2 separate regions of the Homo sapiens genome follow, and region 2 is linked to region 1. The links come from fine-mapping of genetic effects on gene expression. Tissue or cell type: tibial artery. Region 1 holds a variant in brackets; the other region holds the start of a gene. All regions are shown on one strand. Distances are from middle to middle.

Evidence for each region. PIP is the estimated chance that this variant, and not a neighbour inherited with it, causes the effect.
Region 2: it holds the start of GMDS-DT, and the variant in region 1 is fine-mapped to the expression of GMDS-DT in tibial artery (GTEx, PIP 0.99). The same link has a PIP of 0.9 or more in unexposed skin.

What each region holds. Positions count from the first base shown.
Region 1 is chr6:2,395,055-2,403,159 of GRCh38, reverse strand. It overlaps GMDS-DT (GMDS divergent transcript), which reads right to left. Exons shown (of 7, transcript NR_046229.1): 5 at 4,382-4,583; 6 at 4,123-4,294. Among named protein-coding and RNA genes, the nearest start is that of GMDS-DT, 150 kb to the right of the region's middle. The variant C/T (reference allele first, on the strand shown) is at 4,295.
Region 2 is chr6:2,242,509-2,250,613 of GRCh38, reverse strand. It overlaps GMDS-DT (GMDS divergent transcript), which reads right to left and starts at 4,861. Exons shown (of 7, transcript NR_046229.1): 1 at 4,684-4,861; 2 at 1,688-1,777. It overlaps GMDS (GDP-mannose 4,6-dehydratase), which reads left to right and starts at 5,009. Exons shown (of 11, transcript NM_001500.4): 1 at 5,009-5,293. The coding sequence starts at 5,192. RefSeq lists a silencer at 4,737-5,366 and an enhancer at 4,867-5,367.

The DNA of each region.
Region 1 (8,105 bases):
TTGTTGGCATCTCTGGTTTCCTAACCTTCCTCCCTTCCCTACCCTCCCACCAATTTGAATTCCAGGAAATGGTGTACATACTTGCACATATAATGGAATATACAATTCTATATGTGATTGTATCTGTTAGTAATAGTATATATTTTACCTTCTGAAACATCTGAACAGGCTGCTTATTTATAAAGACATAAGTGGAAATCCAAGCAGTATCCATCATATATGTGTTAATATATATTATAAAAATGTTTTTTAAAAGAGCTTTCATCTGGTTATAAAATTAATACATATGTTTATATTATAAAACTTGGAACAAAACGTTTTTGTGATTATAAAATGATATATTCATTGATATTATAAAGTTTGGAAAATCAGGAATAAACTATTATCCATAATTAATATCCAAACAAAAATATTTGGTGTGATGGAAACCTCCTTAGAGCAAGTATGTAGACTACCAAGATAGTGATTTTTTTTTTTTTTTTGAGACAGAGTCTTGTTCTGTCACCCAGGCTGGAGTGCAATGGCACCATCTTGGCTCACTGCAACCTCCGCCTCCCAGGTTCAAGCAATTCTCCTGCCTCAGTTTCCAGAGTAGCTGGGATTACAGGCACCTGCCACCACGCCCGGCTACTTTTTTGTATTTTTAGTAGAGACAGGGTTTCCCTATGTTGGCCAGGCTGGTCTCGAACTCCTGACCTCAGGTGATCCACCCGCCTCAGCCTCCCAAAGTGCTAAGGATTATGGGCATGAGCCACCACACCCAGCCAATGGTGATTATTTTAAAAGCACACTTATTTGAGTACAGGCATACCTTGGAGATATTGTGAGTTCAGTTTCAGACTACTGCAAAAAAAAAAAAAGGGAATCACACAAACTTTTGGTTTCCTAGTGCATATAAAATTATGTTCACACTATACAGTAGTCTATTAAGTATGCAATAGCATTATGTCTAAAGGAGCAATGTACATACCTTAATTAAAAAGTACTTATTGCTTTAAAAATGCTAACAATCAGCAAGTCATCACCCTTTTGCTTGCAGGTCTTGCCTCACTGTTAATGGTTGCTAACTGATCAGAGTGGTGGTTGCTGAAGGTTGGGGTGGCTGTGCTATTTCTTTAGGACAATGAAGTTTGATGCATCTATGACTTTTCCTTTCACAAAAGATTTCTCTGTAGCCTCCAATGCTGTTTGATAGCATTTACCCAGAACTTTCAAAACTGGAATCAGTCTTCTCAAAGCCTGCTACTACTTTATCAAGCAAGTTCAAGTAATACTCTAAATCCTTTGCTGTCATTTCAACAATGTTCACAGCATCTTCAGCAGAAGTAGGTTCCACCTCAAGGAACTGCTTTCTTTGCTCATCCACAGAATCAGCCCCTCATCCATCTAAGCTTTATCATGAGATGGCAGCAGTTCAGTCACATCTTCAGCCTTCACTTGTAATTCTAGTGCTCTTGCTATTTTTATCACATTTACAGTGATTTTCTCCACTGAAGCCTTGAACCCCTCTAAGTCATCCAAGAGGGTTGGAATCAACTTCCTCCAAACTTCTGAACATCCTTCCAGGAATCACAAATGTTCTTAATGGCATCTAAAATGATAAATCCCTTCCAGAGGTTTTCAATTAACTTTTCCCAGATCCATCAGAGGAATCACTGTCTAGGGCAACTATAGCCTTAGAAAGTGTATATCTGAAATAATAAGACTGAAAGTCGAAATTAGTCCTTGATCCACAGGTTGCAGAATAGATCGTTGTATTAGCAGGCATGAACATAACATTCGTCTCCATCTTCATCAGAGCTCTTGGGTGACTAGGTGCATTGTTAGTGAATAGTAATATTTTGAAAGGAATCTTTTTTTTTTTAATCTGGGCAGTAGGTCTCAACAGAGGGCTTAAAATATTCAGTAAACCATACTGTAAACAGATGTGCTGTCACCCAGACTTTGATGTTTCACCGATAGAGCACAGGCAGAGTAGATTGAGCATCATTCATAGGGACTCTAGCATTTTAGGAATGGTAAAGGAGCACTGACTTCAACTTAAAGTCACCAGCTGCATTAGCCCCTAACAAAAGAGCCAGCCTGCCCCTTGAAGCTTGGAAGCCAGGCATTGACTTCTCTTCTCTAGCTATGAAAGTCCTAGATGACATCTTTTTCCAATGCAAGGCTGATTTATCCACCTTAGAAATCTATTGTTTAGTGTAATCACCTTCATCAGTGATCTGAGCTACGTCTTCTGGACAATTTGCTGGAGCTTCTCCATCAGCACTTGCTGCTTCACCTTGCACTTTTATGTTATGAAGATGGCTTCTTTCCTTAAACCTCACGATCCAGTCTCTGATAGCTTCAGAGTTTTCTTTTGCAGCTTCCTCAGCTCTGTCAGCCTTCACAGATGATACAGTTTGGATGTTTGTCCCCTTAAAATATCATGTTAACATATGATTCCCAATGTTGGAGGTGGGGCCTGGTGGGCGGTGATTGGGTCATGGCGGGTGAATCCCTCATGTCTTGGTGCTGTCCTCATGAGGGTGAGTGAGTTCTGGTGAGATCTGGTTGTTTAAAAGTGTGTGGCAGCCCCCACTCCCTCTCTTGCTCCCATTCTCACTGTGTGATGTGCCTGCTTCCCCTTTACCTTCTGCCACAATCAAAAGCTCCCTCAGGCCCTCACCAGAAGCAAGTGTCAGCACCATACTTCTTATACAGCCTGCAGAACCAGGAGCCAATTAGACCTCTTTTCTTTACAAATCACCCAGCCTCAGGTATTTCTTTATAGCAACACAAGAACAGTCTTACTCAATAGAATTGAAGAGAGTTGGGGGCCTTGCTCTGGATTAGGCTTTGGCTTATGGGAATGTGGTGGCTGGTTTGATCTTCTATTCAGACCACTCAAACTTTCTCCCTATCAGCACTAAGGCTGTTTTGTTTTCTTATCATTCATGTGTTCACTAGAGTAGGACTTTTAACTTTTCAAGAACTTTTTCTTTGCATTCACAACTTGGCTTGTTTGACATAAGAGGCCTAGCTAGCTTTCAACCTGTCTGGGCTTTCAACATGCCTTCCTCACACTCTTAATAATTTCTAGCTTTTAATTTAAAATTAGAGACATGCAACTTTTCCTTTCACTGGAACACTTAGAAACCATTGTAGGCTTAGTGATTGGCCTAATTTCAATATTATTGTATCTTGGGGAATAGGGAGGCTTGAAGAGAGGGAGAGAAATGAAGGAGACGCTGGTTGGTGGAGCAGTCAGAACACACACGACATTTATCAATTAAATTTGCCATCTTATATGGGCATGGTTCATGAAGCTCCAAAACAATTACAATAGTAACATCAAAGATCACAGATTACCACAACAGATATAATAGTCATAAAAACGTTCAAAATATTGTAAGAGTTACCAAAATGTGACACAGAGACACAAAGTGAGCACATGCTGTTGGAAAAACAGTGCTGATAGACTTGCTCAACACAGGGTTGTCACAAACCTTCAATTTCTAAAAAAAATACAATATCTGTGAAGTGCAATAAAGCCACAATAAAACAAGGTGTGCCTGAATACAAATGATGGTATTTACACATATAATGAATATTCCTGTGTATGCCTATTCATGTATATATATTTTTAGTCAATCTCATCCTATGGAATCCCTTTAATCCCCACTTCTAGTCCCAATTCTAGGACTTAGAGTCCTAAGGGGTAGCTGTGGAAGCATCAGATACACAGTCACTATGGTAGCCTGTCTCTTGTGTAGTTCCCTGCCAGCAGCCATGTGAGTGCACCATCCTGAAGTCAGGTCCTCCAGCCCCAGTCAGGCCTTCAGATGACCACAGCCCCCAATACTATGAGGAGAGATCCTATCATGAGAGATCCTGAGCCAGAACCATCCAGCTAAACTGCTCCTCAACTTCTGATCCACAGAAACTATGGATTAATAAACTCGTATTGTTGGTTTAAGCCCAAGATTTGGAGTAATTTATTATGCAGATAACAAATATACTGGCTTTAAATCAGACAATATAACCTAAACCCAGTCTCTATCACTTACTGGATAATGGCCTTGGGAATCACACTTTATCTCTTATTTATAAATTATTTAAAATGGAAATAATATTACCTACCTCAAAGCATTGCTTTAAAGAGTAAATGTGATCATATAGCACAGGGTCAGCATTCCTTGGGTGACTAATTCATTTCAGTTTCTCATTTTTAGCACCAGAAGTGCAGCATCTGGAGAAGCCCCTCAATCCTGGGAAGACTGGGATAGTTGCTTATCCTAGTATTCATTGAAAA[C/T]TGGATGAAGGTGAAAGGCGTCAGTGGCATATAGAAAATCAAGAAAGCCTAGAAACACCAGATGAACTTACCCCATCCCCTACTTACCTACACATGAAGAGATGTCCTGGCTATAGATTGTATCATCGTATCTGCGAGACCTGGATTCCCAGGTCTTGGGAATACAATGAGGTTGCTTCTTAGACATTCGGCAGTGCCTCTGGAGACTCCTGGCCTGCTGAGGAGCTCTGCTGCCTCCGTCACTCTGGTCTTGCAGTGGAGACTCCGGGTATTGCCATGAGCATGCTTCCTGAAGAATGAGACAGGGCCTGCACTGGAAACAATGCCAGTCTAGAACATCGTATCAGACACTGCTGAAGGATTTTGGGGCACTGACAGGGAAGTGCACCTCAACCAGTGCTAGAAATGGCTACTCTTACACCCAAACCTGACCTTGGAGGCCCTTACCAGGCAGGCTCCCTGGCCAGCCTTCAGTCAGCCTCCAGGGACCCCTAAGATCTCCCAGCCCCTTAGAGTCCACATGCTATGGGACACACCTCCCTCCATTCTGCCTGGAGGTCTCACCTCCAGACCTCCTTGCACTCTGCGCATCTCCACCAACCCACTCCACACATGACTGGTGCCTTCTTGTCCTTCAGGTCTATGCTGAGCCACTGCTTCCTTTTAGAATGTCCCCCAAGACCCAGGGATGGGTCCCAAACCTTGTCCTGGAGGTGGTGCATTGCAGGCCATGGCATGGGTGCCCCTTTGCTTGTCTGCCCCCACTACCACCTGCCAGCAGCCTGCTTGAGCTCAGGACTGTCCTTGTTCACCCTTCTCTTTTCAGTGTCACCACGGTGCCTGCCACATAATAGATGCTCAATAAATAACTGCCAGTTAAATGAATAAATGGCTTTCATTCCACTTTGCTCAATTTTCCAAAGACTGAGAGCTGGGAAGAGTCAAATGCTCCTTCTGCTCCTTCAAGGCCACAGTTTGCTCTGGCTAATGAGCCAGCCACGGGAAGAGGGAGCAAGGACTGGAGTGCTCATCCTCACACAGGATGCATAGTGGTGCACAGCAACAGCACTTCAGCATCCAGGAGTGCCTGTCACAAAGCAAGGGCAGGAGTGGTCATGGCTCTTAAAGGATGTCAGGGGATGTAGTTCTCTGGCTACACTGCTCACTTAGGAAGTCAGGGATAAAAGTAACAAGCTCTGAATGAGTTTTCTTGCTTTTGCAAAACAATATGACACAGACCTGGACTGGGCCATTTGGTAAACTCCAGTGCTGATGGACTCCTGTGACAGGGAGCTTCAGCCTGCAACGACTGAACTGCCCACCTGCAGGTGCAAGCACAGGTAGTGGGTAGTCTGGTGACACGCCAGGGGACGATGCTCAGGCAGTACAGAGGCAGCTAGCCTCGGGGCCATGCCGGGAAGCAGGAGCGAGCGAGGCCATGGCAGCCTGGGCTCCTTGCCAGGGGCTCCTACTTCATGCATCATGTGTCTCGTTGGAGAGAAGAATGTCTTCCAGGAATCCCGGTCACCTCAACATCTGGTTTAGTGCTTTTTCCTCCAGCCCAAATAAAGTGACTTGTTACTTTCAAAATCAGGTCCAAGTAAACAGAGGGGAAGGGTGTTTCCACAAACAGACTTCGTTCCATCTGGTAAACAAGAGAAAAAAAGGGTTGGAGGGCAAAGTGAAGCCTTGCGAAGGGCAGCAGAATGGAGTGGGCAGCCTGCAGGATATTTGCGGTGAGTGCAACATGCTGAAATCCAGGCTCTGAGACAGCTTGTCTGCTGGGCTGCTGAACAGGGAGGGAAGAAACTGCATGCTAATGAGCTATTTGCTATGACGTGGCTGCTATGGGGAGGTAAGCACTATCCCGTATGTGATTCTCCAAGACAGCACTGTGACCAACACACATAAAGTGTCAGGCTGAACAGCTGCAGCCGCCCTTGGGGTTGAGGGAAGGGCTCTTGTAACATTAATTGAATGCCCTTATGCTTTTACATGTTTTCTTTAATGCAATCCTTGCAACAAAGCTGTAAAGAGGAATTATCATCCCTGCTTTATTAATTAGACTAAGCAACTTAAGTGCACACAACTAGTAAATTCAGAACCATGATCCGAACCTGGAGCTCCTACCATTGTTCTGTAGTGCGAGGTGCCACCTTCAGACTACGGCCTCTGCATTACTGTCTTAGACACTTTCCACACGAGGGCTGAGTAACTTTGTTTTCTAGTTTAATGGTGATTTCAATAGGTCCATAGCCAATCACAGCAAGCTATTGATGAGAACATTCTCAGTGAGCATAAACCCCTGGGCCAACCACTCTGCTTCACATTTGCAATCCTGCCTCCTCCTACATTGGGATTTAGCACATTTTCCACAAGGTGGAGCATCGAGGTAACTACATAAAACTCACACTCACTTATGCTTTTTTTTTTTTTTTTCGAATTTGAAAATCCAAATTCCCCATCTGCTCACAAAGTCTTGTCTGGAATTAACCAGACAGAATGATAGCCTCACATTATAGAGTGGGTGCCCAGTTAAGGAAGCAAGTTGAATTTACAGCGGTAACCTTTGCTTGCCAGGAAAGTCATCCAACTGGGGTTGGAAAACCAGTCCTCAAATCTTGAGTATTAATTGGACCTTTGGCCAAAGCAATCACTCTATCAGCCAATTAAGGTCCTTGGAGCAAGAGCATACTGTCACTCAGAGCCAACACAGGCAGCTTAAGCCCTGGTCACAGACCATTTCTTTCCCTCTGCCGCCAAACCCATGCCTTTGCCCCTTTGTCTCCAGTGACTCGAGTTTCCCTTCTTCCGTCTGCAAGCAAAATTAGAGGGCTTTAGAGCTCTCCAGGACCCAGCTACCTATGAGTATTTTAAAAAGAAGCCACAGCTAATCTATTGAAATTTGTAAAGTTTGTGAATTTTCAGTGAGGGTCATCAGGGAGTTTGTTTCCTTCTGGAAAGAGACAAAGAGAAGTGGGAACCAAGAGGAGTGGGAATTTGGAGACCAGCTGATGGGATGGAATTGCGTGGAAGACATGCCAACTTCTCACCATCTTTCTTTCCAGTGTGAAAAGGAACACGTATTCAACACCTGCACTCTTTCTGTTACTGTTTTCGGCATCATATTGACTAGTATGTTCCAATGGCACTCATGTTTCCAATGAGTGTGAACCATCGCTCACTGGAAAGACACATATAGACACTCTGGTGTCCATGGGTATAGGTTGGAATCCAGGCTCTGTCACTTTCTAGTTATAAAATTCTGGACAAGAAACTTACACTCTCAAAGCTTCCATGCTGCCAACCTTAGGTTGCCAAAAGGTTTACATGAAAATTATTTCACACAGTTAACACATGGTATGTACTCAATAAATGTTAGTCACTATTGTTATTGTTATCTGCTGGCCATTTTTCCAAATCCTCTCTCACTCAGAGACTCCTCTCCATTTAAAAAAAAAAAGTATAAAATTGGACATTTCTGTGGGCCCCAAATCTGTATATTTTCTAACTTAGACCAGTGGCAAGCTTGTACTAGGATACATGGGACCAAGCCAAGCTCTCCAGAGAGTCTCTGGTGAATTACAATGTGGATGCTAAGCCCCACATATAGGAAGCAGAAAGTCTTTTTTGATATATGACCAGGAAAATGGAGAATTGAGGCAATCGCAATAAAGTTTTGACTCACTTGAGATATCCCAATCATTGAGGAAAAAAAAGTATTCTGTGGACTTAATTATCTGAAAAATTGCTTCAAGCTTCCAGGGAATCCTGTAGACAGTGAAATGATTGACATGACTTCCCCACAGCA
Region 2 (8,105 bases), 150 kb after region 1:
CTGGCCATGGTGGTGTGTACCTGTGGTCCCAGCTATATAGAAGGCTGAGGCAGGAGGACGGCTTGAGCCCAGGAGGTTGAGGCTGCAAGTGAGTCTGGATGACAGAGTGAGACCTTGTCTCAGGCAAAACAAACCAAACCAAACGGTACACAAGTAAATACACATACTCTTGCACAAATGAGTACAAAAACTGAGGAAATCTGAATGAGATTGGTGAATTCTATCAACGCCAATATGCTGCTTGTGCTATTGCTCTATAGTATTTGAAGACATGACCATGTCACTCACTGTATTTCTTAAAAATACATTTGAATCTACAATTATTAGTTGAAAAAAATATTTATGAGACAGAGGAAGAGAACTCGGAGGGCCTTCAGTTGTTGATGTCAGGACATTACCACCATAGCTGAAGGCCAGAATTCAGAAAACCACTCCTGCTGCCATGCTGCTCCCCCAACCCAAGTGGCTCTCATGCCCATGAAAACGGTGACTAGACCCAAACTTGGACTCTAACTGCCGTTAATCCTCATGTCAGTTGGACCAGAAAGCAGAAGGATGGCTTCTGTTTCACTTCCACCTGCCAGATTGAGCAGGAACGCATCTAATTGACAAAGCTCAATTTGCTTCCTATATATGAGATGCAAAATGGTCTGGGACATGTGGCTTTGAGCACTCTAATTTTTCCAAAGAGAGTATGGAATGGGAGTTGAATGAGCATAATATCTACCATAACCAGCCACTAGCTATGTGGCCTTGGGCGAGTTTATTAATGTTTCCAATCCTCAGTTTCTGACTCTATGAAATAAAGATCATTATCATACTGAGTGTGGACAAACTCAAATTGTTTTTCCCCTGCTCTAACAAAACACCAATCAACAGAGAAGACTTCTGTGACCAAGTATGCATGGGATTTCTTCCCACCCACAAGCAGGCAATCAATTCTATAGGGCACACCAGCTGGGTGCCCTTCAATTCCATTCAACTCTGACACTGTCTCCTTGGAGATAGCATCAGATCCCACAGGTCAAGGGCTCAGTCCCCAATACTGTGCCCCCGCCAACTTCTGATGCCAATTGCAAGCCCCAGGTTATTCTACCTGTGCTTCTGACTGGCCAAAAAGTGGGCTTCACGTGACCCCCTTCTTAGGTTTATTAATCTGAAAGAGTGGCTCACGGAACTCAGGGAATCTCTTACTCAGGATTACCAGTTTACTGGTATGACAAAGTATATGACAAAGGATGCAGATGAGGAGATGTACAGGGCAAGGAATAGGAGGAGCTTGGAGCTTTGGTGCCCACCCTGAAGCGTCACCCTCCATGTACCTCCACGTGTTCAACTATCTAGAACTCTCTGCACACAGTCCTTTTTGGGTTTTTATGGAGGCTTCATTATGTCGGCATGATTGATTAAATCGTTGGCCGTTGGTGATCAACTTAACCATCAGCTTCTCTCTCCTCCCTGGAGGTTAGGGGATGGGGCTGAAAGTCCCAGCCCTCTAATCCTGCATTGGTCTTTACAATGACCAGTTTCCACCCTGAAGCCACCTAAGGGCTGCCAGCCAACAGTGAACTCACTCATTACCCTACAAAATACATCGCTTTGGTGATTCTAAGCATTTTAGAAATCATATGCCAGGAAAACAGAAATGAAGACCAAATATAGATTTCACCACAGCAGACGCACTTACCTCCTGGAGTTGGCTGAGATGCAGCACGCTGCCCCACACATCTCACACGCTCCCTCCATCCATGCTGGCCATTAGCATGGTTTGTGCAATCTGAGAAAGAAGATCAGCAAATGTTCCATGTGAAAAGCAAAGGAAAGAAATGTTTAAAAAAGGAGAGGAGAGAGAATTTTAAAGGGAATGCTGGAGAATCGTTCTTGAATAACTGGCATGCACTCAGTGGCAAGAGATGGGAAAGAAAGAAGTGAAAAATGTTATTCCACATATTTAGTCTTGTACAGAATGATTGACTTTTATCCAATTAGAGGACTTGGAGTTGGAGGCCTCACTCTTTTCTCTATATTTTGTATCATATTAAAACAAATATGAAAATGTTATGAAAAGTCATAAAATGATTCAATATCATATCCCTTTCAGATTATAGCCCCTTGAAGATTATTTCTCCTCTACTGCTATACCCTCAGCAGCTAGTATGTTTCTGGAGATTAGCCAAGTTTGTGAGTAAAGGTATCAGCATCAACAATTAGCTACCAAATGTATTTGCTTCTTCTGACATACCATGAAGTCACTGTATAGTATAGCCAGTGTCTGTCAGTTCAACCACCCGCTTGTTAACATCTTTCACTGGCCTCCTGGAGAAGGGTTACTCAGCCTCAGCACTATTGACATTTTGGGCTAGAAAAATCTTTGTTGTGGGAGCTTCCTGTGCACTGCAGATGGTGAGCAAAATACTTAACCTCTACTCATTAGATACCTATAGCACAACTCCATTTGTGACAATCAAAAATGCCTCCAGACATTGTCAAATGTCCCCTGGGGGCAAAATCACCCAGGGATGAGAACTGTGTTAGAGGAAAACACAACTGAGCCATCACCCTTAGAGCTTTCCACTACCGCTGGTCGCTTTACTTCTAGTTAATGTAATCTTCTTATGCTGCCCCAGACCCTGTGCTGACGTTGTTCAAGTTGCCCTAATGCTACTGGGAAAATGACAACAACCTCCACTACCAACCTCCTCCCTCCGAGCCCACAAACAGTTAAAAAAAAGAACCTCTTTTTCCCTCTAGCTGTCAATCATGGGTTGAATTTTGTCCCTCCCCCAATTAATATATTGATGTCTTAACTCTTAGTAGCTCAAAATGTGACTGTATTTGGAAATAAGGTCATTAAAGAGGGTCCTAATCAAATGTAACTGGTGTTCTTATAAGAACAGGAAGTTTGGACACAGACACACATACAGAGAGAACGCCATGTGAACATGAAGACAGCCAGCTACAAGAAAAGGAGAGAGGCCTCAGAAGAAATCAGCCCTTGATCCTAAACTTCCAGTCTCCAGAACTGTGAGGAAATAAATTTCTATCGTTTGTCACCCTATGGATGGTACGTTGCTGTAGCAGACCTACCACCTGTCTTCAGAAAAGTTCTCTAGAGAAATAGCCTTTATTCTTCAAGCTTCCTCTGACCTACCATTTCCCATCATTTTATAAATATTTTCAGGCCCTAATAATGTTGATTTTTTTTCCATTTTTCTTCTACTGTCACACACTTCTAGGGCAGGTGTTTGGTGGTGTGACAGGAAATTGACTGGTGTCAACTTCCAGTGTTTGTGTGATAGGAGGTCTCAAAACTACAGGATAAATGTGTCATATCTCCCATAAGTATCAGTTTTGCTCAGTGATTTTTTTTTTTTTTTTTTGAGATGGAGTTTTGCTCTTCTTGCCCAGGCTGGAACGCAATGGCAAGATCTCGGCTCACTGCAACCTCCTCCTCCCGGGTTCAAGCGATTCTTCTGCCTCAGCCTCCAGAGTAGCTGGGATTACAGGTGCCCACCACCACGCCTGGCTAATTTTTTGTATTTTTAGTAGAGACGGGTTTTCACCGTGTTGGCCAGGCTGGTCTTGAACTCCTGACCTCAGGTGATCCACCTGCCGCAGCTTCCCAAAGTGCTGGGATTACAGGCGTGAGCCACTGCGCCCGGCTTGCTCAGTGATTTTTTTAAGGAAAATGTTAAATAATTGGCTCATGCATTAATTTAAAGCGTATTTACATGAAAATGAGTATAGTTTTAGCATATTCCCGTATATTTCACAGACATTTCTAGCTTATAGCATGTTCCTCTCAATGGAAGTGTTCCCTCTCCTCAGCTTCAGGGTCTCTTCATCACTCAGAGGCACCATCAGATGTTTGTTGAGCCATTCTCCTCATAGAACGCAGAGGAGAGGCCAGGTGTGAAACCAGACCAGTCTATCTATAGCTAAGAAATATTCCTAACGGACCTCGAGGAGCGCGAGAGGGAGGTTTTAAATGTAATCCTGAGCTTTTCTGATTTTGGGGTTCCAGGTCTGCTATACATACTCTTGCACGTTATATTGGGCACAGCCCTAGTAACTCTGTGATTTGAAATGATGATCTGAAGTTATCGATTAGGGAGAGGAATGTGGACAGAGAAGCAGAGCAACGGAGACCGGGAAGTTTCCGTCTGTGTCCTGGATTGCAGCCAACTGCTTAGGCACACACACCTGCTGCCCTCCCGGCTCTGAGTCACCTCCTCTCCTCTCCCTGTCCAACGAGCAGCTGCCAAATGGCAGCCAAATCCAACAGATGTAAGCCGGGACCCCACCTGTGTTTGAATTACTTTCTTTGAAATCTGCCACGTCCAGGTTTATTGACCCGGGCAGTCTTTTCAACATTTCCTTATGCCGCATACGGGTGGGGCTAGGGACTTTCTTGTGCACTGGCAGTCCTCAGAAGAGAAAACTTTGAATTCAGCTATTTGGAACCTCGTTACTGGTTCCGAGCCTCAGGAAAGGCCAGAAGAGCGAGAGCCAGCCTAGTTAGTCACTCCCACATCTGTGACCCCCGTTTACGGGCCTTGTACGCTACTGCCCTTCAGGTACCATAAACCGGGCTTCTCAAAGGGCACTGCAACAGGTTTCCAGGAATTATTTATCAAAGTCCATGACCCCGGCCCTGTGACCCCTGGGTTTGAAAATTCAGACCTTCAGCCTAACGGAGAGGTCGGCTCAGCGTTCCTCCCAGCATCCTCGGGCGATATTAGGGTCCTGGGAGATTCGGGAGGCCACTGCGTCCAGGCCCCCCACGGCCAGCCAGGCGAGAGGCGGGACGCGAAGCCGCGGCCTCCTTCCTCTTCCCTGAGGCGGTGGCGGCGGCAGGCCCCGCCCCTCCCGCGCGGTGGCCGTCGGCGGAGGGGCGGGGCCTGCTACAGCGTCGCCGGCTGACGCGAATGACGCTGCGCCAGTCAGGCCGCAGCCCCGCTGCTTGGCCCGTCGGGCCCGCCTTGGCCGGCTCGGCCCGCCCCCGGCCCTCCCTGCACGGCCTCCCGTGCGCCCCTGTCAGACTGTGGCGGCCGGTCGCGCGGTGCGCTCTCCCTCCCTGCCCGCAGCCTGGAGAGGCGCTTCGTGCTGCACACCCCCGCGTTCCTGCCGGCACCGCGCCTGCCCTCTGCCGCGCTCCGCCCTGCCGCCGACCGCACGCCCGCCGCGGGACATGGCACACGCACCGGCACGCTGCCCCAGCGCCCGGGGCTCCGGGGACGGCGAGATGGGCAAGCCCAGGAACGTGGCGCTCATCACCGGTATCACAGGCCAGGTGAGTGCGGGGGCGGGGGCGCGCCGGCCGAGGCAGCCTGGGCACGCGTGCTCTCCCTACGCGCCGCTACTCGTGGGCTGCGGTCTCTCCAGGAACAGCCCTCTCGGCGTCCCGGAAGGGGTCTGCTGCCGGGAGGTGGGACGGAAGGTACGGTGCAGTTAGTGTGTTGCGTGTGGGGTGTGCGGGATACATCGAGCGCCTCTGGTCTTTCTCTGGGGGCTGTGAGCGTGTGTGCCGCGCGGGATGTCGCGCTCACACCCGGGCAGGACCGCCCGCTCTCACCTGCCCCTCAGGTGACCGCAGCGTCTCTTCCTCCAAGCCCATGTCGTGCTTCGCAGCTCCTAGTGCCGGAAAGGGAAAAGAACCGGTGATCAATGAACTTGCGGGTGAGGTCTTCTTGATGTGTCTCGGCTCAAGGGGCGCTTACCTGCTAACGTTTGGGAAGCAAGAAAAAGGGTGCTTTGCTGGTTTCGTCCCCTATCACCGGATTTCCAGATAGAAAAGAGAACATGAAAGAAAGTAATGCTGTGGAGTCACCTACTAGGACATGTTTAGGAAAAAGAACTTAAAAAACTTTTTAAAATCACGCCAACTTCTGAGATTCAGGTTGACACATTTGGAAGTGTATCCGAGGCACACTGGTCCAAAAGTGCGGCTAGTTCCATTTTCAAAGGAATAAGTTCGTCGAGTAAGGTAATCAAGAGGAGGTCTTCGGAATGTCTCAGGCTAAGCATGGCTGGTTTGTGAGGGTCGCCTCTTAGAGGTGTTGCAGTAGGTGGGATCCGACCGCTGTGTCTTACCAAGCTGTGCTGTTTTAGATTCAGTGGTCATGAAGTAATCGTGCCCACATATTGCTGTAGAAAGAATGTGATGTGTGTGCTCCTGGGTATCTCTGGGTGGTGGCCAATATAACACTGAGATAAAGGTGATAATGGCTAATACATATTGTGTCTATCATGTTCCAGTCGCTTGCCTAACATTAACTCATTTAGTTCTCATAACAAACTCTTTGAGGAGGTACTTTTATTATCTCTATATATGTGGAAACTGAGGCATGGGAGTTTGATTTGCCTGAGGTTAAACCGCTGGGAAGTGTCCAGTTGGTATTGAAACCACTCTCAAAGTTCTCTAGTGTTAGAAAGGGCTAAGTGGGCAGGAGGCAGCGGCTCATACTTGAAATCTCAGCACTTCGGTGTGCAGAGGTGGAAGGATTGCTCGAGGTGAGGCCAGGAGTTTGAGACCAGCCTGGGCAACATATTGAGACGTTGTCTCTACAAAAAAATTTAAAAAATGAGGCAGGCATGTTGGTGCTCACCTGTAGTGCTAGCTACTCAGGAGGCTGAGGCAGGAGGATCACTTGAGTCCGGGAGTCTGAGGCTGCTGCAGTGAGCAATGATGGTACCACTGTACTCCAGCCTGGGGCAAGAGAGTGAGATCCTGCCTCAAAAAAAAAAAAAAAAAAAAAAAAAAAAAAAAAGAAGGAGAAGTTGAAATTGGCCAGATGCACAGTCACAGAATATTACACAATTTCAAGTATTGAATACCTGATTTACTGCTGGTTATTCATGCATCTTGCTTTGCTTAAGGTAATCATAATAGACAAGAGTTTGAAAACTAGTAAGAGGTGGATCTGAGTTTGAAAACTAGTAAGAGGGCAAGGATCTGAGGTTGAGAAATTGAATCCTTGAATTGAGGCAGTAAGACAGGTCAGGGCCTACATACTGTCCTCCCCCTTCTCTTTGTTTTCTAATGCTGGGACCTTTCTGCAGATGATTCCCTTTTTTCCATTTTGTCAGACTGGACCTGAAGCTCAAATGTTTACCAAGTTTACCTAATCTCTGGAAAGTAGAGATTTTATTTTAGTATTGTCCGGAAATTAGTTAAGATTAACATCTTAACTAATGTGCTGTGTTGGTGTGGCCTATACCAATTTACACGACCAGCAGTATGAATCAGTGCAGATTAGAAATGGAACCTAATTTTGACTTTTAAGAGCAGTCATTTGGCTGGAACTGAGTGGCCAGGAAGGTATGGAAGTGGGCCCCCACTCTAGTTTGTCCTGCAGCCTGTCATGGGAGTCTACCTGAAGCACCACACTCAGCAGACCACTCCCTGACTGGAATTTTTTGGTTCCTCATTTCATTTCCAACTTAAAACACCTGCATGGCTTTCAGGTTGGGTTGAATCTCTGCCCCAGTGTTTCTTTCTTCCCTCCGGCATCTGCCCTCTGCATTGTCTCCTCATTTGGTGTTGCATTGGCTTCTGTACCCCTAGCATAGTGCTGAATTCTGTAGCTACCACATAAACACTTGCAGATGGAATTTACTGCTCTTTTATGTTTTTTATTTGTATTCCAGGACAGTGACTCCCAACTTGAGTATCAAGGATCTCTGGAGCACTGTGGTGTTAATGCAAGGGGTCTGAAAATCCATACCTTATTGTATGTTTTCTTAATAATATTGGCTGAGAACTTACTGAGCTATTCACTCTGCTAAGCATTTTGTATATCCCTACCTAAGAGACAGGTATAATAAGTATCCCCATTTATCCCTGGCTAAGTAAGGTTAAATATGTTCCCTGAGGTCGTACATCTAATGAGTGTCAGAACTGAGATCTGAACCCAGATCTCAGCAGTTGCTGTAAGTCATTTTGTTATACAGACTGTGGTGAGCCTTATGAGACAGAGAGAAATAAATAGTCTTACTCTAAGAAGAGATTTCAGATTCAAATGCCACTGCTCTGGCACTTGGGGCTATCATGGCATTTGTGCCAAGATGGGCTCTTAAATGGGTTGTCCCAAATTCCCGCTTGA